Homo sapiens: one gene and its partners. The protein of the gene in region 3 purifies or fractionates together with the protein of the main gene of each other region. This does not show direct contact. Each region holds a gene or a part of one and is shown on either strand. Other genes may lie near its edges. The genes, in order: DDX23, ZC3HC1, PFKL, LRRFIP1, RELB, MAP3K8 and ANG.

Region 1 (2,954 bases), on a different chromosome or scaffold from region 3:
TGGGGTAAGAAGAGCATGTGAACAAGAGGGGTATGGGGGGAGGACTGCAGCCCTGCGTTCCTCTCACCACAGCCTGATACAGCTGGGTCCACCCGTTCTGCACCATCCCCTCCCAGGAGCAATGGGTCCAACTAGGGAGCCACAAGCAAAGCTCCCGAGACCAGGCGTTGGGCACACAGCGGCAGAGTGGTTCCAACTGCCTCACCTGCCAAAATTTCACAACTGCTTTCCTTTCTCACCTTTGCCTAAAGCTCCCTAGAGGGTGTCCAGGCCAGGGCCACACATTACGCGAGGCTAGAGCAGGGGCGGAAGATGCATTACAGTCCTGCGTGGCTTCTGCATCTCCTCTCAAGTCCACCTACAGACTCAAGACTATCAGCAGAGACCCCTCTACTCTTCTCTTAATGTGGCTGTCTCTCATTTTCCAAGCCAACCCACCCCGCACCCAGTGGTGTCCCTCCTGCCAGGGAGAAGCTGGGAAGTTTAACTAGAACTAGATCTAACAGTCTTAATATTCATGTATTTATTCTCAGAACATACAAACTTATCTTCTCAGAGAATAGAAAACAGAGATTTCACTCAGTGACAAAGATGGACACAGCCAGTTCACCGTGTCCCCCCATCTACTTAGAAAATCCCCTGGGGGAGGGGATGCCTAGAGCATACAGCACCCCTTGGTGCGGGGCTGTGCACAGGTCTAAAGACTCTCAACTTCCTTTACCATCCAAACAGGAAAACAGCTGTCCAGATGACAGTAAGATTCCACTGTCTGTAATCCTCATGGTGCCAGGTCTCCTGGGGCATCTAGGGCAATGATGCTACTGCAGTTTATGCAGTTACACAGTCAAGTCTGTGCCAAAGGAGGTCCCATCCGGCGGCCAGGTTTCTGTTCAGTCTGGGGAGCAATGCCAACTGGCTGCCCCCATAGCCTGGCATGAGCTGATGGCCCAGTGCAATCCCAAAGCAAAGAAGGGCAGAACTGGGCCAAGAAGCTGTGGTAATTTGCTCTCCCTGCCTCCGACAGCGTCGTCCTCTCCTTTTGCAGCCCCACACGCAGGCCTCCTGACCTGAGGGTCTGGGCTAGGGAGTTGGATTGTTTTCCTAAGCCCCCATATCCCAAGAGTGAGGACCTGGAAAGAGGGATGTGAGGGTTCTGAAAAACAGGCATCAGGCAGCTTTGGAGATGCCCTCAGCCCACAGGAAGAGTGCTGTGTCAGGCAAAGATGGTCTCTTCCCGGCGCTTCTTGGTGAGGATGGTGCCTGGCTTATGCTGGGCATCTGGGTGGTTGGCTAGTTCGGGGGGACAGGAAGACACTGGGCTTTCCAGGATAGCTTGCTTCAGCTCGTAGAACACAGCAGAGTCCTCTTTTGTGAGGAAGGTGATGGCCACCCCACTCTTGCCTGCTCGTCCCGTGCGGCCAATGCGGTGGATGTAATCTGGGGAATGGGAAGAACGTCACTCAGCATAGCCCAGATGCCCTGGGGAGCCGTGTCTGATGCCTCCACTTCTAGAGGCATCCTTCCCACCCCATCTCCAAAGGCAGGAATACAGCACATGCTGCCTGAACCTGAGGCGCCCACAGTGCCCTCTCCAGGTGCCCATCTCCCCTGTCCTCCTACTGACTGTGGTCCCTACCACACTAAGACCCACAGCTGCCTAGCTTCATTCTTCACACTCCTGAGGACACAAGTGTCATCCCAGCTGCTGGGACAACAAACCCAGGTAAGATAAAGGACAGGAGTGCTTCTCATGGGAGCAAGCAATCCCAGACTTGGAACTGAGGGAGGCAGTAACAGCCTTCCATGGACAGCACCCTGACTTCCAGTGGGACACCATAAGGAATCTGACTTCACCCTGGATTGAAGCTGCTTTCCCTGGAACTTACCTTCAATATTTTTGGCCATATCATAGTTGACAACCATAGACACATCTTGGATGTCAATACCACGACCAGCCACATCTGTAGCCACCAAAATATCCTTGGCCCCAGCCTTGAGGTTGGACAACGCAAACTCTCGCTGCTCCTGGCCTTTTCCACCGTGCAGTGTGCAAGCATTGTACTGTTGGAAGAATGGTGAAGTGAAGAGTGAGCAATGCAATCAAGGAGAGACACAGGAGTTCAGAGGAATGGGACACAGATGAAGGGAGGGTTGGAGAGAGCAGCAGAGTACGAGAAAGGAAAGGAAACAAGAGAATGATTGCAGTGAAAGAAGGAGAGAACAAGTGAGCTGAAGAGAGGGATGAGAGAAAAAGGTGTGGTGTGGCAGGGACACACAGAGTAAGGTCAAAGGCAAAACAGCTGGGAGAGCGGTGGAGCCAGACAGATGAAAAGTCCTCAAAGAGAATTAGGGGCGAGATCAGGGTAGAAAGCAGGGATCAAGAAGTTTAAGGAAGTTGGAGAGCTGAGTGACAGGGACACACCCCTCCCCTCAAGCACCAGTGACAGGAGTAAAGGACACTGATTATCAGCTCCCTTCTGACCATATCACCTCCTCTCAACGTACCTAAGCAGTTTTCACCTACTCTTTTCTACATCCTCAGACTGCCAGGATATGGGTCTCAAACCTTTCCCTGGCTCCACCTCACCAGGATGAAGACCCAAGGCAGCTTTGGCTGGCATTACTGCAGCAGACAGGGGGTCCCAGCAATTGATTCCATTCTCTTTATTCCCTCAAACCACCCTTCACCCTGGTCCTAACTTGTTGATTGCTGGACAGGCTAAAGAAAGGGTGAGACTTGAAAGGAAGAGCCTAGGGGGCCCTGCTAGATTCAGAAAGCAGTGCCACAGAGGCTAGACTTTGTTCTCCCCTGCCAGACACACCCCCATCTTCTCCAGGGATTTGGCCAACACGTCGCAGCCCTTCTTCTGGTTGACAAAAATAATGATGGGTGGGTCAAAGCCTTGCTCCAAGATTGCCAGCAGCTTTTTCCTGGAAGGAAGAGGAGAAAAACA
Region 2 (3,500 bases), on a different chromosome or scaffold from region 3:
TCAAACAAATGTCATTGACATACACTCTACAACATAACTGTTCTGTAATCTTCAAAAGTATCAAGATCATGAAATTCAAGAAAAAACTGAGGAAATGTTCCAGATTAAAGGAGAATAAAGCAACATGACAACTAAATGTACTGTGTGATTCTCAACTGGATACTTCAACTATAAAGAATGTTATTAGTATAACTGATGGAAAAACTGGGGTCTGAGGATTGGAGGGTAGTAATTTATCAATGTCAATTTTCTGATTTTGATGGTTGCATTCTGGTTATGTAGGACAAAGTCCTTGTTTGTAGGAAATATTTGGGAGTAGTAAGACATCACTTTGGTGGCTTACTTTCAAATAGCTCAGGGAAAAAAGGTTCTTTGTAATCTCTGCAACCTTTCTGTAAGTCTGTAATTTAAAAATTTTTAAGAATCACTGTAAAAAATTACCATGTAAGTCTTTCTGTCCTTGCACACAGGGAATAAAGTAGTGAAAAGCAGAAGACGTGGTGTGGTACCACATTTCTTCCGCCTTCAGTCTCTGCTCCTTTCACAGAGCTACCCATCAGTACCATGTTGGCCATGTTGGAGTAGAGTATCCTCAGCTTCACAACCTCTATGGTCTATAGGAGACAAAATGACAGCCCAGAGAAGAATTTGCCATTTTCAGTGGAAAACAAGTGGCAATTACTAATTATGATGACTTGTACTTTGGATCTCATTTGCTGCACTTTCCTTTATAAGACATCAACTGGGCCAGGTGCAGTGGCTCACGCCTGTAATCCCAGCACTTTGGGAGGCTGAGGTGGGTGGATCACCTGATTTCAGGAGTTTGAGACCAGCCTGGCCAACATGGTGAAACTAAAAATACAAAAACTAGCCAGGAATGGTGGTGGGAGCCTGTAATCCCAGGTACTTGGGAGGCTGAGGCAGGAGAATCGCTTGAACCCGGGAGGCAGAGGTTGCAGTAAGCCAAGATCACACCAGTGCACTCCAGCCTGGGTGGCAGAGTAAGACTCCATCTCAAAAAAAAAAAAAAAAAAAAAAGACATCAACGGCTTAAGATGGATGTTTGAGCTCACAATCTCTTTGATACTATGCAGCCATAAAAGGAACGAGATCATGTCCTTTGCAGGGATGTGGATGAAGCTGGAAGCCACTATCCTCAGCAAACTAACACAGGAACAGAAAACCAAACACATGTTCTCACTTATAAGTGGGAGCTGAATGATGAGAACACATGGACACATGAGGGGAACGACATACACTGGGGCCTGTTGGAGGTGGGAGTTGGGGGAGGGAAAGCATCAGGAGGAATAGCTAACAGATGCTGGGCTTAATACCTAGGCAATGGATTGATCTGTGCAGTAAACCACCATGGCACACGTTTACCTATGTAACAAACCCGCACATCCTACACATGTACCCCGGAACTGAAGATAAAAGTTGAAGAAAAAAAGGCCAGGCATGGTGGCTCATGCCTGTAATCTTGGCACTTTGGGAGGCCAAGGCAGGAGGATTGCCTGAGCTCAAAAGTTTGAGACCAGCCTGGGCAACACAGTGAAACCCCATCTCTACTAAAATACAAAAAATTAGCCAGGCATGGTGGCGGGCGCCTGTAATCTCAGCTACTTGGGAGGCTGAGGCAGGAGAATTGCTTAAACCCAGGAGGTGGAGGTTACAGTGAGCCAAGATGGCACCACTGTACTCCAGCCTAGATGACAGAATGAGACTCCATCTCAAAAAAAAAAAAAAGTTGAAGGGAAAAAAGGAAACAAAACAATGGATCAAATTCTTGAAGTCAGGCATATAGCACACTAGGTATGTTTCTAAATAAACTTATGACATAACGTTTAATGTCTCTTCGTGAAACATGCAATGTGATAGCTGGTATGTGCTTACTTTTTCATTTGGGTAATATTCCAGTATAAGTTTTTTTTTGAGACGGAGTCTTCTCTGCCACCCAGGCTGCAGTGCAGTGGCATGGTCTCGGCTCACTGCAACCTCTGCCTCCCAGGTTCAAGCAATTTCTCCTGCCTCAGCCTCCTGAGTAGCTGGGATTACAGGCGCATGCCACCACACCCAGCTAACTGTGCATTCTTTTTTTTCTTTTTGAGATGGAGTCTCATTCCTGTCGCCCAGGCTGGAGTGCAGTGGCATGATCTCGGCTCACTGCAACCTCCGCCTCCCAGGTTCAAGCAATCCTCCTGCCTCAGCCTCCCGAGTCACTGGGACTACAAGCATGTGCCACCATGCCTGGTTAATTTTTGTATTTTTAGTAGAGACAGGGTTTCACCATGTTGGCCAGGCTGGTCTCAAACTCTTGACCTCGTAATCCACTTGCCTCAGCAAACCAAAGTGCTTGGATTACAGGTGTAAGCCACCACGCCCGGCCTAATTTTGTATTTTTAGTAGCGTCAGGGTTTCACCATATTGGCCAGGTTGCTCTCAAACTCCTGACCTCAGGTGATCCGCCCACCTTGGCCTCCTAAAGTGCTAGGATTACAGGCGTAAGCCACCATGCCTAGCCAGTATTAGTTTCTTGATCAAAAAAAGGTGTGTGATTTGGCTTATTTTATGGTCTTAAATTCTGAGATTTTGTTAATTTTTGATTCCTAGGTCAAGACCTTGTTAATAGTTTATAAGACAGAAATTCGGGGCCAGGTTTGGCGGCTCAGGCCTGTACTCCCAACCCTCTGGGAGGCTGTGGCAGCATAATTGCTTGAGGCCAGGAGTTCGAGACCTGCCTGGGCAACATAGCAAGACTTTGTCTACACACACACACACACACACACACACACACACACACACACGGGTAGGGGTGCAAACTTGGCAGGAAAAAAAAGCAGCTGGAGCTACTAAAGACTTCTCTCAAAGCAAGGTGATGTGAACAGCTTTTAAGGTGGCTCCAATGATCCCTGCCTTCTTATATTCATGCCCTTGTGTTATCTGCTCCTCTTGAGTATGGGCTGGCCTAGTGACTTGCTTCTAATGCATAAAATATGACAAAAATGATGAGATGTCACTTTTGAGATTAGATTACAAAATGAGGCTGGCTTGTATCTTGTTCTCTCCTTTGCTCACTCTGATGGAAGTCAGCTGCCAAGTTGTGAACTTTCCTTTAGAGAAGCCCACATAGCAAGGAACCAAGTGGGGAGGGACATCTCTGGCCAATGGCCAGTATAGAACTGAAGCCCTCTGTCCAACAGACACAAGTAAATGAATCCTGCCAACAGTATGCCAATGACTGAGTTTGGAAGTGGACCCTTTCCTAGTTGTTTTTTTTTTTTTTTTTTTTTTTTGACACGGAGTCTTGCTCTGCTGCCAAGGCTGGAATGCAGTGGCGCGATCTCGACTCACTGCAAACTCTGCCTCCTAGGTTCAAGCTATTCTCCTGCCTCAGACTCCTGAGTAGCTGGGATTACAAGTGAGCACCACCACACCTGGCTAATTTTGTTTTGTTTTGTTTTATTTTATTTTATTTTTCTTTTGAGACAATTTTCCTAGTT
Region 3 (3,821 bases):
CAGGAAGCAGCCCTCTTGGGCAAGCACCTCCCACGTTCATGATGCAGAGCGCAGGCTTCGACGCTGAGGTTAACAGGCATCCTGCAAGCAGGGCGTCCACCACCCCGTAGCCGCCTGCAGGACTCAGCCCTAGCCCCTGGTGGGCGCAGCTCTGCGCTGCCTTCTTTTCCCCTCTTGCGTGTCCACCATCAATGTCTCCTGGATACTGGCTCAAGCCAGCCACCAGCCTGCAGGTTGGAGACCCCCACTCAGGCTGAGGTTGGGGAGACAGAGGAGTGAGGCTGTACCCTTCTGCCCCCAGGGGAGGACCAGGAGGGGCTCAGGTCACCCTGGTGGCCCCCAGGGAGTCCTGGAGAGCACCTGTGGCCTCTCAGGGCACATGTCCCTTTGACCTGGCCCAGGCACTGGCCAGAGGGCCCTCCACCCCTGGGGCTGCTGCCCACTGGGCTGGCCGCTCGGTGCTGCTCCCCCCTCTCTCTGAGGAGTTCTGCAGGCTGTGCTCTCCGGAGACCGATGCACCCCACAGTCAGGGTGATTTTATTTCTAGAAAAGGTGACAGGTGCTGCACGTGGGCAGGAGCAGGTCACAGTGAGGCAGGGCCAGGGGCATCCCCCTCTCAACACAACCTAGGCGCCAGCAGCCTACCGGCCAGGTAGAGCAAGGGCTGGCCCATGTAGTGAGCCCAGCATGGGGAGACGCTGAGGGCCCATGGGGCGCCAAAGCCAGGGGGCAGCAGCCTCCAAACACCGACAGCGCCACGTCCCCTGGGCAGGAAGGTGGATGCCCCAGGGCACTCTGTCCTCCTGCTGGAGGGCCTGGCAGGCTGGTCTCAAGACACCAGCCCGAGGGAGGCCTGGCAGGTGGCCAGGGATAGAGGCAGGGGATGGGCTGAGCAGGGACGCAGCCCCCACCTGCCTGCAGGCTCCAGACACAACAGCCCAGGCCCCATCTGAGCCCTGGCGCTGCGCTGGCATGGGTGGGGGCTGGGGAGGGGCGTGGGCATGGCTGGCCTCAGAAGCCCTTGTCCATGCTCAGGGTGCGGCGGGTCACGTGCTCCAGCTCCCCTGACACGTAGGCGGCCATACTGATGCGGTATTGTGCCAGCATCTTCAGCATGAGCCGCAGGCTCAGCCACCACTGCTCCCGTGGCATGCGGTGCCTGTGCAGGACGGGGATGGGAGGATGATGGGGAGTCAGGGGTCAGGGCAGCTCTTCAGCCACGTCCCCAGCCCCCCCACCCCCCCCGACCCTGCAGCCTGTGCATGCCCCTCTGTCTGAACATCTCGGTATCCGTGGAGCTGGGACAGGTCTGGGGTCCCCATCCCTCGGAGGCACAGCACAGAGTCAGCCTCAGCCGCCCTCAAGCGTGCCCACTCCTGGCTACCCGCTGTGCCCCCATGCCCACCCGAAAGGATTGCCCAGTGTTGTGCTCAGAAGACTTGGGCATGGTCCCTGCTCTCCACGGCCTGGCGGGGACCTGGGCATGGGGGCCCAGGAGGCCTTGCGGGGTCAGGGTGCCAGTGGGGCTGGGCCTGGCACACCTGCCTCAGGGAAGGTCTGGGCCACCCCTCAGCCCCACCCGCCTCCACGAGGCTTTGGTGGAACTCACTCGAAATCAGTGTCTTTCTTGAGCTCAGTGACGGGGCTGAAGGCCACCGCCTTCTTCTTCAGGCCGATCACGCAGGCCGAGTCTGGGGCATTGGCGAACACCCGTCCTGCAAACAGAGGCACGTGGCAGCCCTCCATGGTGAGGCCCTGCCCCAGGGAGCCAGGGGAGGGCAAAGTGAGGCCTCGGGTCGCACCCACCACCTACCCTTGCGGTAAACCTCGCGCAGCTTCTCCGACAACCACAGCATGGCCTTCACCCCCAGCTTGGTCCCATAGTTCCGGTCAAAGGGGGTTGGAGCGCCACCCTGGAAACAGGTGAGGCCCGGTTCCCTGGACTCCCCTGGGCTGCCTGGGCCAAGGCCAACGCCAGTGCAGACAGGATCCCCACGGGGAGCCTCCCAGGCAGCTTGTGAACACCCATTCCTTCCAACCCGTGCACCGTTCCCGTCTGTTCCCGATCGAGGACCCTGCCTGCTCTCTCCAGCTCCAAGTCCAGGCCAGAAGCTGCCTCCCGAGGCCGGCAGTCGGCTGCCCCTGGCCAAGTCAAGTGACTCCTGGGCCCTGCATCGGCAGCCAGCGGCCCCACCTCGGGCCCCATCACCTCGGGCCCCATGCCCAGCCACCCTGACTCCCCTCCCTGGCTCAGAAAACCCCAGGACGCGGGCTTCCTGCAGGGCCACCATAAGGCAGGGAGCATGCGGGGATCTAGGTGAGGGGTTCGGCGGAAGTGGCCGCGGGAGGCCTGGCAGGGGTGGGGAGCTCGGCTCAGCATGTGAATGCCCTGGCTCGGGCCCCGGCTCCAGCCCCAGCCCCACCCCTTCTTGAAATGAGACCTCACCTAGATACAGGCCTCGGTCCCCTCACTGGGGAAGGGCACACGTGCCCGAGGGCCTGCCGGGAGTGCCCGTGGGTGCCCGTGAGGGCTGGGACCCCTGGGGCCGGGGACAGATGGTGGCAGGAAAGAGGGGCAGGCCTCTCAGAGCCTCACCCCTGCCCCACACCTGCTGCAGGTGGCCCAGGACATTGGTCCTGCAGTCGAAGACGCCCTTGCCCTCTGATGAGTACAGGTTGTACAGGAACTCCGTGGTGTAGTAGTCATGGCACTTCTCGTTCCTGAGAGGGGCAGCAGGGCCTGAGTCGGCGGGAACGAGTTCAGGTCTCCCCCCGATCCTGAGTCCCCGCTGGGCCAGGCCTGGGAGAGGGAGTGGCAGCTCCCAGGAAAGCCGCCCTGGCCCACCCTCTCCAAGGACCCCTCCTGCCTTCTCCTGCCCAGCCGCTCCTCAGCAGCCCCACCCCAGCCCCGAGAGTTGGACGCGCAGCTGTGGCCAGGGACCCACGGCAGCCTCACCGCAGCACCAGGCCCCTCTGAATGTCTGTCTTCATCTTCTCCGTCATGTGCTCCACGTTGACCTGCGGGAGGGGCGGACACGGATGAGCCGGAGGACTGTGGGGAGGGAATTCCAGGCTGACCGGCGATCCGGGGCCAGCAGGAGCACTGGGCTACGCGTCCCACCTGCCCGGGCCCTGCCCTGCGCTGGCCGGCCTGAGTGTCTGGGGCCCAGGCTGGCATGCCGGCAGGTCTGCCGCAGCAGGGGCTGGGCTGGGCTCACCTTTAAGTCGTGGATGTTGAAAGGGTCCTCGAAGACGTAGGCGGCGTCGGCCCCCACAGCAATGCCAGTCACGGTGGCCAGGTAGCCACAGTAACCCCCCATGGTCTCCACGATGAACACACGGCGCTTGGTCCCCGAGGCAGACTGTTTGATGCGGTCACAGCTCTGGGGGACAAGGGGGGGTCGGGGGTCCTCCACGTGCCCACCCTTCCCTGTAGGCCGTCGGCATGGCTACCCTGCAGGGAGCCCTGTGTCTCCAAAGCCAGCCTGGGGCTGACGCACCCAGACAGCCAGCAGCACCAGGCTTGGGCCCACCTCCCACCTGGGCCCCACAGGACCAGGGGTTCTCAACCAGGCGACCCCACCCCCCAGGGCACAGTGGACAGCAGCCTGCACACACACTGGCTGTGAGTGGGCAGGGGTGTCCCTGGCACCCTTGGACAGAGGCCAGGCGCTGCTCTTAGACTACCCAGCACTGGGGCGCAGGGACATTCCCGCCTCAGTCTCCCCATCTGAGCTCATCACAGTAGCGAGGAACAACGCAGGGCCCCCCTGGACCTGGAAGTGGCTATGGCAGGGAGCTGAGCCCCTTCACCCGGGCCT
Region 4 (3,500 bases), on a different chromosome or scaffold from region 3:
CTGGAGGAAGTGGCATTTTGAGTTCTTGAAGGCTGTATGTACCAGTCAAGATGCTTTGGCTGCTGGGACAGAAACCCTGACTGGACTGACATTGACAAGGGGAAGTATATTGGCTGGAGCACAGCAAGCCCGGAGGCAGGGCAGGATTCCCCGCCAGCCTCACCAGTGGCTCCGGCCTCTTTTTCCCACAGCACCTGCGCAGCTGGTTGGGCTGGGCCATCCTCTGTGGGTGGCCTCATCCTCAGGCTGACTTGCTTCATGGAGGCCAGCTGGCCTTGGCTTTCCCGGGCTGCCACTGTGGAGCCCACACACCGTCTCTTCTGGTGGCTCTCTCCAGAGAGCTAGCAGTATCTCCCTGGTAAACTTTCATGAGTCTGTCTGGCCACTCCTGCACCAAGCTCTTTGACAAGGACCATGGACTTAGGGGCTCAGTGCCTGTGGCAAAGGGGGGTGGGTCTACCCTGTGACCTGTCAGACTCATCCTGGGACTGGGGAGAGCCGGCCTCCCTGAAACACTTGGGAAGGTGGGGGCCTGAATGGAAACTGGGGAGGCTTCAAGGAAGTGGGAGGGAGTGGGCTGCCACTTGGGCCTGGCACCCAAGAACATGCCTTCTGGAGAGTAAGTGGAAAATTCTGGGCTGAGGTCATTGGGAAGCCTGAGTCACCTGGCAGGGACGTGGGTTCCAGTTCGCTGGAGCGAGGGGAAGAGCTAGGCTGCCCTGTGCAGGCAGGGCTTTGCACTCTTCTGGGTAGAAGCAGGACTCGTGGTGGGGGCAGCCTTTGGAGGGTGCATTTCTGCTTCTGCAGCCGGTGTCCTGCTTCCATGTGATGGTTTAAACTCTAGGCAAGCGTGTATAGTAAAGGGAGTTATTTGCAAATGCTGTATTATCGCAAGTCAATTATTTCTCACTCTCTTGTTGCAGTGGAATTCAGGCGGGATGTTATCAGGAGAAAGGTTTAGTACGCACTTGCAGAAGCTCATTAGCACCAAAGGCATGAGCTGCGCCTCCCACTTCTGGGGAGGGGTGTTTCCAACGCAGATAGATTTTCCTCTCCTACCGCATTTCACATTCTACTGGTGCATTTTGGTAGCATCCCAAACTTCTCATTCAGCACTCTGCAGCTGAGTAAAGCGATACTGGTCTCACCATGCAATTCAAAGTATTGCTCTCAAATGAAGAATGTTTTTCCCAACAGGAACAGTCATTTGCGCAGGCTGCATTAGGAACTCACCGTGGGGCCTTGAGACAGTGCGGTGAGCTTATTATCCCCTGGTGGTGCCATAGGTACCCCTTCCTCACCCAGCAGGACGGAGGCCCTCCCCCCATAACTGTTTCTGCAGCCTCCTCTCCAAGCTGGCCCCTCTGTGGCCTGCGGCCTCGGGCCCTGATCCATGGCAGGGGCACTGCTGCCCCACCCGGCTGCTTCACCGGCCCCAAGTTGACTCGTGGGCCTGCGGGTGCTGTTGGTTCAGGCCTCACAGCCACCGCCTTTCACTTGAGCCACGGCCACACAGGAGTCCAGTTGCGGAGAAGGGGTCGCACTGCCCCCAAGGAGTCCAGTTGTGGAGAAGGGGTCACACTGCCCCCAAGGAGTCCAGTTGTGGAGAAGGGGTCACACAGCCCCCAAGGACTCCAGTTGTGGAGAAGGGGTTGCATTGCCCCCAAGGCAGCCTGCAGCCATCAAGTAACCATTTTGTGAGGTCACAAAATGTCCCCCAGGCTTGTTTCAAGATGCAACCAATTCTGTGGTACGTTTCCTGCTCCGGAGCTCTCTGCGGGCCAGGCTGAGGCCAACTCCTGCCGAGACCACCTCCCTCCCCAGCCCTTCCCTGACTGGCCTGCCCCCCTCATGCCCCTGCTGGGACAGGGCTCACATCCAGTCCTGCCATGGGCTCTGCTTCTGGAACCCAACATAAAGCCATGCCCCTTGTTTCAGGTAGTTCGTAAATATCGGGTCTTTTCATCCTAAGTCCCCCTTTCATTCATCTTTTCTCCCTGTCCTTCCCAAATAGCCCTCCTATATCAACCTGTGCGGAGGGAGCCTGTCTCTCTTCTCCTCAAGGCTGTTGGAGAACCAAGCTGGGGATGGGGTGCACGTGTTCTTTTCCAGAACAGCCCAGAAGTGGGGTTCAGTGTGGAAACTTCGCTCTACCTCTCTCCAGCACTAACCTGACCTGGCTCCTCTGGGGTGGAGAGTCCAGGACTGAGCCCAGCTGCAAAGATGCAAATCTGGGTCCCCAATGCAGTCCCTTGCCCTCTGGTGAGGTGACCCTGGGGCCAGAATTCACCTGCACGCAACCAAGATGTCAGACTTGTCCCTAGGCCTATTTCACTTGATTTGAAAGTGAATTTCATGACTTTTTTCTCTATGAATTTGCTTTTCTGAGGCTGGCCAGCAGATTGCACACCAACTGAGTGCTGCTGGACACTGGTTTGCCATTGGGGCTGGGCCCTGCCCCTTTGTTCCACAGGAGTTGGGAGAGGTGAGGGGCGTTCAGTGCCCGGCAGGACACAGGACTGTCCAGCCTGAACAACATCCTGCCTCCAGTTGGAACCCAGCCGCAGTGGAGTCACTGAGGGCTGTTCTGCAGCTGATTCTCCTAAGCCAAACACCCATCTTGGCAGATCGTCTACAAGGTTTTAGGAATGTGACAAGACTGGTGTTCCAGACGGATTTTTACCAACAGTCTGAGCTGTTGGAGGGCGTGAACAATGTGCCTGTGACCTTGGGCTGTTTGTGCGATTCCCAAAAGATGCTTCTGGGTTTCTGAGTCCACAGAAAACTCAGCTGTGGACAGGCCTGCTGGTCCCCAACGGCCCTGGGCCCCACCCCACAGCTATTTCTGTCAGAGGGCCAGCTGTCTCCCTTCTTCCTTTTCTGGGTGACTCTTGAGCCACTCGTTGGCCTGGTACTCAGGGTTGGGATGTGTGTGTGGAGAACATGACCTGGCTTCTAGCCCTGCCTGTCCCCCGTGAGCCCTGCCCGTCCCCAGTGAGTGTGAGACGGGAAAGGAGAGAGGGGCGAATGGAGGTTGCTTCTAAGACCCAAGGTGTGCCAGGTACTCTGGAAGCTTTACTCCCATAGTTTGTTTAAATCCTGTGAAAAGAGTTCCGAGTCTCTCTGTTTGACAGAGAGAAAACAGACTCAGAGACACCATGGGACATGGCTGAGGCCACCTATTAATTAGGGGCTGCCAGTTCATGGCCCAGGCTGCTTCCTGGATCAGCCCCTCAGCTCCCTCCAAGACCCCATTCAGGCTATGTCCTGCAGGCAAGCCACCTTCTTCCTATCCCTGGCACATGTCGTCCCCCACTGACCTGTGAACCACCAGGGGTGACATTTCAGGAGAGAGAGTCCCATATCTGTCTCTGCCTTACTGTATCTCTCATCTTCTTTTTCCATCCTTTCATCTTTAAAAAATTGATTTTTATTTCATCAGAGTAATATATGTTTTTACCCATATTCTCAGGCCGTTCCCCACACAGTAGGCTGGGCAG
Region 5 (3,995 bases), on a different chromosome or scaffold from region 3:
GCAACAGGAATGAAACTCCGTCTCAAAAAAAAAAGAACCACTGTCTGGCCAGGCGAGGTGGCTCACACCTGTAATCCCAGCACTTTGGGAGGCTGAGGCGGGCGGATTACCTGAGGTCAGGAGTTCAAGACCAGCCTGGCCAACATGGTGAAACCCCATCTCTACTAAAGACACAAAGTGGGTTGTGGTGGCGGGTGCCTGTAATCCCAGCTACTCAGGAGGCTGAGGCAGGAGAATTGCTGAACCCGGGAGGTGGAGATTGCAGTGAGTCAAAATCGCATCAATGTACTCCAGCCTGGGTGACACAGCGAGACTCTGTCTCAAAAAAAAAAAAAAAAAAAAAAAAAACACAAAAAACAGACAAAAAAAACCCACACACACACCAAAAATGAACCACTGTTATAGACTGTCTAGTAATAATAATTATTATCGTTATTATTATTATACCACTAACAGTTAACACTTACTGAACCCTTACTGTGTGCCAGATACTGCTTGGAAAGTGTACCTGTATCAATTCATTGAATACTCTCAATTTCCCTGAAAGAGAGGCACTGTTATTCTGTCCATCTTACAGATGAGGAAAACTGAGGCCTGAACTGGGGAACTGACTTGCAGACATTCACACAGGGAGGGGCGATGACAGCAGTATGTAAACCCCAGCTCCAAAGCCCAGGATGGCAGTGATTACCTTCTACTAAGCCACAGTGAATCTCTAAAGAAGCCTTTGCGCATGGATAGGTGGTAAGATTTACCTGTCACGCTTTTTTTTTTTTTTTTTTTTTTTTTGAGTCGGAGTCTCGCTCTGTCTCCCAGGCTGGAGTGCAGTGGTGCGATCTCGGCTCACTGCAAGCTCCGCCTCCCAGGTTCACGCCATTCTCCTGCCTCAGCCTCCCGAGTAGCTGGGACTACAGGAGCCCGCCACCACGCCCGGCTAATTTTGTTTTTGTATTTTCAGTAGAGACGGGGTTTCACCGTGTTAGCCAGGATGGTCTCGATCTCCTGACCTCGTGATCCGTCCGCCTCGGCCTCCCAAAGTGCTGGGACTACAGGCGTGAGCCACCGCGCCCGGCCACCTGTCACGCTCTTAACAGTCCAAGAGGTAAGAAAACCTAGGGGGCCCATCTCAACTGGCAGGGAGGGATGCACCCTGTCAGGAGAAAGCTGAGGTGGACCTCGTGAACCCCCAAACAGAGACATCTCTGTGGAGTCCTCCCAACCTCATCCTGCATGAGCGAGTGGGCAGGAACTGTGGAGGGCTGCTCACCTGTGCTCCTGGAAACGGCGAGCGAGAGTGAGGAGAGGTCGGGGGACCCTGCAGAGAAGGAGAAACGTCTCAGGAGGTGATGGGGGGCAGCCAGAGGACCAGAGAATATCCCAAGGAAGCCCCACCCCTTCCTCTTCTAGCCCTTCCCCTCTGGATCAGGCCCCTCGCCCTGACTGCCCCCCTGCGTCTGGCCAGGCTTACCAGCTAAATCATGGACAGGTCCTGGCCTTTAGTTTCTGTGGTTCGCCCCACCCTTCATCACACTCAGGGCCCGCTCCTTTTCTCCCTTAAAGTTGGGCCTGGAGGGGACCCCATCTCAATCTCAGTTTAAAAAGTCCCCATCCCGCTGGGCACAAGGGCTCACACCTGTAATCCCAGCACTTTGAGAGGCCGAGGCGTGCGGATCACCTGAGGTCAGAAGTTCGAGGCCAGTCTGACCAGCATGGTGAAACCCCGTCTCTAGTAAAACTACAAAAATTAGCCGGGTGTGGTGGCGGGCACCTGTAATTCCAGCTACTCGGGGGGCTGAGGCAGGAGAACTGCTTGAGCCCGGGAGGCAGAGGTTGCAGTGAGCCTAGATCGTGCCACTGCACTCCAGCCTGGGCGACAGAGCGAGACTCCATCTCAAAAGAAAAAAACAAAAAACAAACAAAAAAAAACATCCTCCTGTCAGGGTCAGACCACTTTTAATTTTTTCAATGTCAAGGCTCCGCTTCTCCGTCTGGAGGCAAGCCCCACCCCCTCCTCATTCTCTGTGTCGGGCCCCGCCCTGCTTTTTTGGGTAACAGGCCCTTCCCCTCCACTCGGCCAGAGTCAGGCCCCGCCCCTTCCCCTTCTTTCGGCCAACTCAGGCCCCGCCCCCTTCCTGCCCTCACGGCCAGGCCCCGCCCCCTCACCCCTCAGCGTAGGGCCCTGCTTCCTTTTTTGAGTCAGGCCCGGCCCTCTTCTCATAGTCCGGGTCGGATCCCGCCCCTCTTCTCCCTCTCTGGGCCCGGCCCCGCCCCGATACCGCCCAAGAGCAGCTTTCGCTCCGCCTTCTCTGAGTCAGGCCACGCCCCCTTCTTTGCCTCAGGGTCAGGCCCCGCCCCCTCTCACTCTACAGCGGGACGCCTCGCTCGAACCTCGGGCCGTACCCCCTCATCACCCTCTGCCTTCTTCCTACGCCCTAATACAGTGTCTCAGGAACCCTCACTCTGCCCCCGCGAAACCCTTAGACTCCCATAGGAACCCCCAGACTACTCCGGGACCGCCAGAATCCCCGCATCTCCAGCCCCGCCCCAGACCCCTCTCCTGAACCCCAGCCCCGCTTACCTAAGGCCCCCAGCTCCGGCGCAGCCGGCGGTCTGGCGACGCGGCGACTCGGCATGGCCCGGCCAGTGGGGACGGACGGCCCAGAGGCTGGCCCAGACCGAAGCATGCACGCGGGCCGGCCGGGCGGCCGGGAGGCACGGTCTGGTGGACGATCGCGGGTCGGACGAGCGGCGCAAGGGCTGGGGCCGCAGGCCGGGCAGGACGCGCGGCGCCCGGGGCTGCGCGGGGCGCGGGGCCGGGCCGGGCGGGCGGCGGGCGGGGGCGGGGCGGCGGAATTCCCCGGCGCCGCCGGCCTGCGCGCCCATTGGTCTGCACCCCGCCGTGACGTCACGCCTGGGGAACGGGAAAACCCCCACGCGTCACGTGATCGCGGGGGCGGGGCCGGCCGGGAAAGGGAGGCTGGGCGCTCAGGAGGGGTTGGGCAGGCGTCGCTGCCCATTGCTCTGGACGAGACAACTGAGGCCTGCTTAGAGCCATCACGCCTTACCCATTGAGCAAGCCGGCAAACTGAGCCGCTCCCCGCTTTGGTCTCCCAGTGGGACTTGAACCTGCCGTTTCTCAGGCTGGAAGGGGAGCTTCAGGATCGAGAGGTTGGCAGGGCTCTACACCTGCCATCCATAATAATATTTCGGAAACCTCCAAGGTCTCGCTACACCTCAGTTTCCTCAACCGTAAATTGAGGATGAAGATATTTAAGGAACGTTTAAAGCTAGCGTGTCAGCTTCAGAATTTATGTTTTGTGCGTTGTTGTAACCCCAACGCCTAGACCAGCGCCTGGAACACCGTAGGTGCCCAATAAATGTTTATTGGAGGCCGGGCGCGGTGGTTCATGCCTGTAATCTCAGCACTTTGGGAGGCCGAGGCAGGCACATCACGAGGTCAGGATTTCGAGACCAGCCTGACCGACATGGTGAAATCCCATCTCTACTAAAAATACAAAAATTAGCTGGGCGTGTTGGTGTGCGCCTGTAATGCCAGCTACTCCGGAGGCTGAGGCAGGAGAATAGCTTGAACCTGGGAGGCGGAGGTTGCAGTGAGCTGAGATCGTGCCACTGCACTCCAGCCTGGGCAACAGAGCGAGACTCCCATCTCAAAAAAAAAAAAGTTTATTGGATGAATGCATGGATGTTTTATTTATTGGTTTGTTCCTCCCTGCAGCCCCTGAAAGTTACCCATAAATAGCCCAGACCACTTTGAGCTCAAAAGCTCAGTTATTCAGTCTGCGAATGGCAGCAGTGTAGCCTCCGTATACATCCTGAGCTGTGTGCCTAAACCCTGAGCTCATCCCTATCACCAGCGCCAGAAGCATATGATAGGATTATTGCAGAAGGGACTCAGGCTGAAAGAGGGGCAGCCATTTGGCTAGATCACATTCCTAAGCCTCTCATATTCCTGAGAACGACTAGGTGATCTATTA
Region 6 (4,240 bases), on a different chromosome or scaffold from region 3:
GGTAGCTATGTTGCCCAGGCTGGTCTCCAACTCCTGACCTCAAGTGATCCTCCCGCCTCGGCCTCCAAAGCGCTGGGATTACAGGCGTGCGCAACCGCGCGGAGGCAATCTAGAAACTGCAGAGGGAGCACGGACCTGGGCACTGGGAAGAATAGGGCGTGGACTTGGAGTGTGACCGCGTTTGAATCTGGGTTGTGCCTGGGACACCCCACCTCCTGGGCCGTAGGTGGGGGGGGAGAGAGAGAGAGAGAGAGAGAGAGAGAGAGGATGTCGACCTTACATGGCTCCTAGCTCTCCGCGCTCTAGCCGAATGCCTGGTTCCTAGTGGGTGCTTGATACGTGGGAAATGTAGGGGGAGGGGGTGGCGGGGCATTGGGAATGTCCCGCAGAGTGGATTTCGGGAGAGTGGCGCTTTTCTCTAGAACTCTCTTCCGGTTACACCTGGAGTAAAAGCTTGACACTCTAGAAGGAAAACCCCAGATGAGCAGCTAGGACTGAGGGTTAGCGGTAGGCGGGAGCGGGGAGATAGTACAAGTACGCTTCCTAATGAGGCGGTGCCGCAAAATAACCAATTTTAATAAAGACTGCAGAGAAGAAAACCAGGTTCTGCTGGCGGAGTGCACAGGCTCCCAGCCGAGCGCCCAACAACCAGGTTCCGGGCCCACCCTGCCGCAGCCTCTTGGAAATCTCTAAGTTGGAATGTGTGCGTGCGCACCACGGGTCACTGCCCTCTTTGTGTGTGAATTTGAAGCGAAATCTGGGCGAGGCGGGGCCGTGCTACTAGCAATCGGACCCACAGTCGCGGTTCCAAGAAGCCCCGAAGCTTCCCCGGCTTCCCGCAGCACTGCTGGGAGGGCACACGGCGCCTCTGTCCCCACCCCAGAGCGTGGGGCGCGCGGAAAAAGGTCTGGTGACTGCCCTCCCCGCCGCCCCCCGGGAGCGTGCCCTCCCGCCGGACCCTGGGACTCCAGAGAAGCGCCGAGGGCGCGAGTACACTAAGATATACGACCTTCCCTGGGGACCGGGAAGGGCACAACCACCTCTTGCAACTCCGCCACTAAGACGCCTTGGGTCACCAGGCCCGGGGGAAAACTCGTCCCCGTCCCAGGCTCTCGATTCGGGCCGCAGCTCACGTCCCGCGCTCCTCCCTGCGCGCCGCTCTGCTCCTCCCTAGTCCCGCCTCCAGCTCCGCCCGGGCGCCCAGAGGGCAAATGAGGGGCGGCGGGGTGGCGGGTGGGGGGGAGACGCGGAATTTCCCAGCGCGGGGGCTCTGGCTTACCCTGCAACCGGGCAGTCTCTTTCTGTTTACGGAGAGAAAGGGGAAATGGAAAAGTCGGGGAGGCGGTGGCTGGCGTCCGCTGCGCCGCCCCTGGGCAGGCTCAGACGCCGTGAGTCAGGGGCAGAGCAGGGCGGTCTGAGCGTGCGGGCGACGCGGGTCTCACTCGTCCGCTCCGCTCTGGACTGCGCGCCACGCTCTGGGGTCCGGCGCCCTGGTTCCTGCTTCTGCCGCTGCCGCCGCCGGATCCCAGTGGCCCGGCGTGCTCGGCTCCCACAGGCCTGCAGCCAGCATCGCACCGAACCTTCGGGGGGCCGCGGCTGGAGCGCTCGGCCGGCGTGGGAGCGCCAAGGCCGCAGGTAATCCAGGGTTGGGGGTCTCCGGCGTGTCTTTCGGGTCGCGTCCCGCCTGGGTGCCCCGGGGATTCCCATGCAGAAATGGAGGGTGCCCCCAGCAGAGGGGAAAACTCTGGCGTGGGAAGAGGTGGGGGCGTGCCCACAGCTGCGCTCGCGGGTCGCCGGCTGCACCAGGCACAGCTGGAAAGCACCTTGCGCAAGGGTCTCACGGGGTGCAGACTCGCGACTCCTCCCCCTTCCTCCTCCTTCCCGTATCCGCAGCGCCAGGGCAGTGCTGGTCTGGGCAGTGCGCGGGGAAGCGGGGACCCGCTGTCACTGCGCCTCCCGCTGCCGACGCCGCCTGGACGGCCGCACTCTCCCTGCCCGAGACCCGGTGAGTGCAGCTCGGAGGCTGGAGGACCCGATCCTCCCAAATGCTGGGTGCTTTGATAATTTATAAGCCTTTTAGGCTCCCTTGACTTAGAGAACCAGGAGGAAAGGAGTGGGAGTGTGGGTTGGCGGAGCCCAGAGACTTGTGAATGGCTGGAACTAAATTCAAGTTTGTAACCCGGACTCTATCCCATGACTAAAGAGGTCATAGCAGAACACGAAGGCTGGGCTTTTGGTCTAAGAAAGAATACTAGGAGAAAAAAAAAGTTATTTTCACGGAAGTTGTTTTCGAGCGATAGTGCATGATCAGGACTCTGAAATTTTTCTAGCTCTGGGCGGAGAAGGACGCCTAGGGATTGTCTCCATAGTTAACAGGGGAAGGCCACCGGCTGCCTGTAAGAGAGAAACGTTGCGATGCTTGTCTATTTCACTTTTGGGAAGACAAGATTAAAGGCTGCTCTTGATAAAAAACAGGGACAGAAAGGCTCTTGCAGTTGCTTTACATACCTGTGGCCTGAGTCGTTTGTGCCAAGGAGAGTGTAATCCACTTCCAGCTGACGCCCCCAGCTCTCTGCGACGGATTGAGGTTTGTGTGCAGGACGTCTGGCATACGGCCCATGAGGACTTTGTCGTGTAAAGCAAATGGGAACGTTGAGGCATGTAGAGGTTTTGAAGCAGAGTGTCGGTCCTTCCTTCCATACGCCTGAAACGCATAATCCGGGGCTTTTTGAGAGCAAAAACATAGTCAGAAATGTGCCCTGAGGGAGAATGTACTATTTTGGCACACATATGTATATATGTATATATAATTTTTAAATTTTTTTTGAGAGGGGGTTTCACTCTTGTCGCCCAGGCTGGAGCGCAATGGCGCGATCTCGGCTCACTGCAACCTCCACCTCCCGGGTTCAAGCGATTCTCTTGCCTCAGCCTCCCGAGTAGCTGGGATTACAGGCGCCCGCCGCCACGCCCGGCTAATTTTTGTAGAGACAGGGTTTCACCATGTTGGCCAGGCTGGTCTTGAACTCCTGACCTCAGGTGATGCACCCTCCTTGGCCTCCCAAAGTGCTGAGATTACAGGCATGAGCCACTGTGCCCGGCCTAAAAAAATATTTTAAATGAGAAATAACACAAGTAATAGTCATTCTTTGTTAGGCAGAAGCATATGCTGTTATGCTGGCCATTTTCATTCACACTTGCCAGGAAACACTCACATTTTGTTTCTGTATATGGAGGCAGCCAAGAGTATTATGTTAATGTTTAGGAAGAGAATTTCCTCGTGATTTTATTGCTGATTTCTGAAATAATTCAGTGTAACTAATTTTGACTGTATTTGCACATCTCTCCAATTCCAAAAGCTGGCATAATTTTCTGTTTGGTTAGGAAGTAGGAATTTTATGAGGACTTTTATTGTAAACTGTGTCAAGGGAAAAATCATCTTATACTAAACGTCTTTATTGCCAAACTAGAATACCTTCACAATCTGAACTTTCTCTAGATGGGCACAGATCATGAATAACTCAGAAACCATTAGCATATTGTGTGCTTAATTAAGGCTGGAAAGTGCTGAGGCTTTTTGCAGGCGCAGTTAGCAGGCGAACTGGTCAGCAGGGTTTCTGGGGAACGTAGATTTGCGTGACAGGGGCCCTGTGTTGCTAAGGAATTACTGCAGGCACTGAGAAAAGTCTCAGCGTCAGACACTCCTCCACCTCCCGGGTCCTGCTTCCCTCCCTCTCCCCTTTCCAGGCAACTCACAGTTTAGGGGTGTGGTTGTGTGTGTTCAAGCTCTTGGGTTTTACATATAAATGCCTGAGACTTTTCTGCAGGGTTTAAAAACTAACATCTTGTCTTACAGCTCTTTTAGGATTTGTCTTTTAGAATCTCCAGTCCTCACAGGAAAACCCCCCAATTAAAAAAATAAAAGAATAAAGAATAAAAAGAATACCACTACTACTATAAAAAAAAAAAAAATCCTCTAAAATTTGTCTTCCCAGATCAGCAGAGTGAATTTGAACTGTGTGGACTTTTTTCCTCTTTCTTTCTTGAGTCATGTTAGTACTGAGAACTTTTTTTTTTTCTGTCAAATCATCTGTTTGATAAATAAGTCCAGGAGACTTGGATCCTTTCAACCCCTGAGGCCCTAAATTAGGCTGTTTTTTTTTTAACCTCTGTGTTTCCAGTAAATTCGACAAGCAGAAACTGCAACTAAACGGCTCAGTAAAACCGAAGTCAAATGTTCCTC
Region 7 (2,920 bases), on a different chromosome or scaffold from region 3:
GATCAACATACCATACTTTCCTTCACAGAGAGGTAAAGTCTACCTCCCTAATGACTTGTAAAAACTGACTGATAAGGAAAAAGTGGCCCGGCTCAGTGGCTCATGCCTGTAATCCCAGCACTTTGAGAGGCCAAGGTGGGCGGATCTCCCGAGGTCAGGAGTTCAAGACCAACCTGGCCAAAACGGTGAAACCCTGTCTCTACTAAAAACACAAAAATTAGCCAGGTGTGGTGGTGCATGCCTGTAATCTCAGCTATTTGGGAGGCTGAGGCAGGAGAATCACTTGAACCCAGGAGAGAGAGGTTGCAGTGAGCCGAGATTGTGCCATTGCACTTAAGCCTGGGCGACAGAGTGAGACTCCATCTCAAAAAAAAAAAAAAAAAAAACGAAAAGAAAAGAAAAAGGCATTTCTATCCTATGCAGTCCTCTCAGGGAGCAGCCAAGTAGAGAAAATGGGGGAAAGATCAATATGCCCAGAATCAGTGAGAAGACTCTGATTCTTACTGATATCAAGACATTTTTATTTATTAAACATGTTGTCAAACAGAAAACAAAAGGTCCAGGTAGCTCTTTCTTTGGGCCCTTGGCAATGAATGTTGCCACCACTGTTCTGGGTGCAGAGGGGAAATGGAAGGCAAGGACAGCAGAGCCAGCACTTGACCAGGGGCCCGCTGGTTACGGACGACGGAAAATTGACTGATCCAAGTGGACAGGTAAGCCATTTTCACAAGCAACAACAACGTTTCTGAACCCCGCTGTGGCTCGGTACTGGCATGGAGGCCAGGGGGAACCTCCATGTAGCTTGCAAGTGGTGACCTGGAAAGAAGACTTGCTTATTCTTAGGTTTTCTCTGTGAGGGTTTCCATTCTTGTTTTCACAGATGGCCTTGATGCTGCGCTTGTTGCCATGAATAAATGTGTTGATGTCTTTGCAGGGTGAGGTCAGGCCCCGTCTCCTCATGATGCTTTCACAGTATCTGTCATCCCGGCCCTGTGGTTTGGCATCATAGTGCTGGGTCAGGAAGTGTGTGTACCTGGAGTTATCCTGAGCCAGGGTCGGTGGGGTCAGACCCAGACCCAGCACGAAGACCAACAACAAAACGCCCAGGCCCATCACCATCTCTTCCAACACAGGCTCCTGCGGAGGGCAAAAGGAGGTGTGGTAGACCCAAGAACAGCATCACCAAATTAGGCCAAAAGGACAGGAGCTTTGCTCTCTGACACGGCATCATGAATCAGATCTTTTCCACCACCAAATTTTATATTCTATTTTCCCTTCCTCATTAACCTCACACTTCGTCAATCCCTTCCTGCGGAACGTCTATTTAATAGTTTCCTGAGCACAACCTCTAGCTCCAACCGTTCTTCCCCATCCCTTAGAATCACTGAGTATTTCTCTATCAGTCGTAACATTACAAAATCCACTCTCACTCTTTAATTCATGTATTTATTAATTGAATAATGAACATTACATAGGTCTCTACTGGGTACCAGGGACTGTGCTAGGTCCTGAGGCACATTAAGACATACCAAATGACGGCCGGGCGCGGTGGCTCACGCCTGTAATCCCAGCACTTTGGGAGGCCAAGGCGGGCGGATCACGAGGTCAGGAGATCGAGACCATCCTGGCTACCACGGTGAAACCCCGTCTCTACTAAAAATACAAAAAATTAGCCGGGCGTAGTGGCGGGCGCCTGTAGTCCCAGCTACTCGGGAGGCTGAGGCAGGAGAATGGCGTGAACCCGGGAGGCGGAGCTTGCAGTGAGCCGAGATCGCGCCACTGCACTCCAGCCTTGGCGACAGAGCGAGACTCCGTCTCGGAAAAAAATAAAAACAAAAAATAAAAAAATGCCTCCCTAATAGGAAATGAGGCATCCATGGGGAAAAGATGGGGGCTTCAATGTACTGAGATGAGATAGTAATACAGGAGGTGAGAGCTAAGAAGAGAGTTTTAGGGGAGTGGTCTCTAACATTTTTGGCACCAGGGATCATTTTTGTGGAAGACAGTATTTCTATGGATTGGTGGGGGATGGTTTCAGGATGAAATTGTTCTGGTTCAGATAGATCATCAAGCATTAGTTAGATTCTCATAAAGAGTGCACAATCTGGATCCCGCACATGCGCAGTTCACAATAGGCGTCCAGCTCCTATGAGAATCTAATGCTGCCTGCTGATCTGGCAGGAGGCAGAGCTTAGGCGGACAGGCCACAGACCGGGATTTGGGGACCTCTGTTCTAGGGAACCCTGAGCCCAGGGAAGGAGTCAACCATAAAATTGTTTACGACAGGCTTCTAGCTAATTAGTCAGCTAATGTGAAGAAAGCAGTTGAAAGCAGTTGTATCCTGAGTTGAAGGGAAGCAGACCTACCTCCCCAAGAAGTAGGTGGTTCTTGTTCGTTTATGAGTAACTCACTGAATTTATGACTGGCTATGATTTCTTGGTAGTCATCACACATACTGAGAAATTCTCACAAAGGGAGAAAAATCTGATCTTCAAATTGTATTGCATTCTTAAGTGTAATACAATTCTTATGACCCCAAATGTAAAAATAAATGGTACATTTTCAAAGACATTAAATTAATTATTAATTTTTTATTTTGTGCTTCTCTTGTGTGTAAGTCAATGAACATTTTCGTATCAAATAGTTCTGTAGCCCTTGCAGGAAGCACCAATGTTGTACAAGTTGTGGGGATATTGCTGTTCACAGAAGGGAGTCTGAGCTTAAAAAAAGGCCATGGGTCCTGGCACTAGGCCTGTGGTGTGGCTAGCCTGTTCTGAGAGCAAGACTGTGGATCTAGAAAGACACAGGACCCCAATGTTCTATGGTTACATGGGAAGACGTGACTGGGTGAGCAAAGTGGGCTCTCTTTCTAATTTGCATTTGGTGTTGATTCCATTACAAATTATAATCTATGAACTTA

Evidence for each region.
Region 1: the proteins of PFKL (region 3) and DDX23 fractionate together in Homo sapiens (co-fractionation; one large-scale study listed by BioGRID). This does not show direct contact.
Region 2: the proteins of PFKL (region 3) and ZC3HC1 fractionate together in Homo sapiens (co-fractionation; one large-scale study listed by BioGRID). This does not show direct contact.
Region 4: the proteins of PFKL (region 3) and LRRFIP1 purify together in Homo sapiens (affinity purification with mass spectrometry; one large-scale study listed by BioGRID and IntAct). This does not show direct contact.
Region 5: the proteins of PFKL (region 3) and RELB purify together in Homo sapiens (tandem affinity purification; one large-scale study listed by IntAct). This does not show direct contact.
Region 6: the proteins of PFKL (region 3) and MAP3K8 purify together in Homo sapiens (tandem affinity purification; one large-scale study listed by IntAct). This does not show direct contact.
Region 7: the proteins of PFKL (region 3) and ANG purify together in Homo sapiens (co-immunoprecipitation; one large-scale study listed by IntAct). This does not show direct contact.

What each region holds. Positions count from the first base shown.
Region 1 is NC_000012.12:48,829,256-48,832,209, forward strand, and holds the end of DDX23 (probable ATP-dependent RNA helicase DDX23), read right to left. Parts: intron 2,932-2,954; coding exon 2,823-2,931; intron 2,062-2,822; coding exon 1,887-2,061; intron 1,438-1,886; coding exon 1,214-1,437; 3' UTR 501-1,213; downstream 1-500. UniProt on the Homo sapiens protein: Involved in pre-mRNA splicing and its phosphorylated form (by SRPK2) is required for spliceosomal B complex formation.
Region 2 is NC_000007.14:130,044,875-130,048,374, forward strand, and holds part of ZC3HC1 (zinc finger C3HC-type protein 1), read right to left. Parts: intron 1,036-3,500; exon of another isoform or gene 1-1,035. UniProt on the Homo sapiens protein: Required for proper positioning of a substantial amount of TPR at the nuclear basket (NB) through interaction with TPR.
Region 3 is NC_000021.9:44,324,053-44,327,873, reverse strand, and holds the end of PFKL (ATP-dependent 6-phosphofructokinase, liver type), read right to left. Parts: intron 3,384-3,821; coding exon 3,219-3,383; intron 3,019-3,218; coding exon 2,957-3,018; intron 2,722-2,956; coding exon 2,610-2,721; intron 1,914-2,609; coding exon 1,814-1,913; intron 1,716-1,813; coding exon 1,610-1,715; intron 1,160-1,609; coding exon 1,012-1,159; 3' UTR 501-1,011; downstream 1-500. UniProt on the Homo sapiens protein: Catalyzes the phosphorylation of D-fructose 6-phosphate to fructose 1,6-bisphosphate by ATP, the first committing step of glycolysis.
Region 4 is NC_000002.12:237,630,587-237,634,086, forward strand, and holds part of LRRFIP1 (leucine-rich repeat flightless-interacting protein 1), read left to right. Parts: intron 1-3,500.
Region 5 is NC_000019.10:45,000,269-45,004,263, reverse strand, and holds the start of RELB (transcription factor RelB), read right to left. Parts: upstream 2,801-3,995; 5' UTR 2,685-2,800; coding exon 2,579-2,684; intron 1,316-2,578; coding exon 1,268-1,315; intron 1-1,267.
Region 6 is NC_000010.11:30,432,744-30,436,983, forward strand, and holds the start of MAP3K8 (mitogen-activated protein kinase kinase kinase 8), read left to right. Parts: upstream 1-1,440; 5' UTR 1,441-1,635; intron 1,636-1,893; exon of another isoform or gene 1,894-2,005; intron 2,006-3,829; exon of another isoform or gene 3,830-4,240.
Region 7 is NC_000014.9:20,691,764-20,694,683, reverse strand, and holds the end of ANG (angiogenin precursor), read right to left. Parts: intron 1,654-2,920; exon of another isoform or gene 1,530-1,653; intron 1,205-1,529; exon of another isoform or gene 1,138-1,204; 5' UTR 1,120-1,137; coding exon 676-1,119; 3' UTR 501-675; downstream 1-500. UniProt on the Homo sapiens protein: Secreted ribonuclease that can either promote or restrict cell proliferation of target cells, depending on the context. Endocytosed in target cells via its receptor PLXNB2 and translocates to the cytoplasm or nucleus.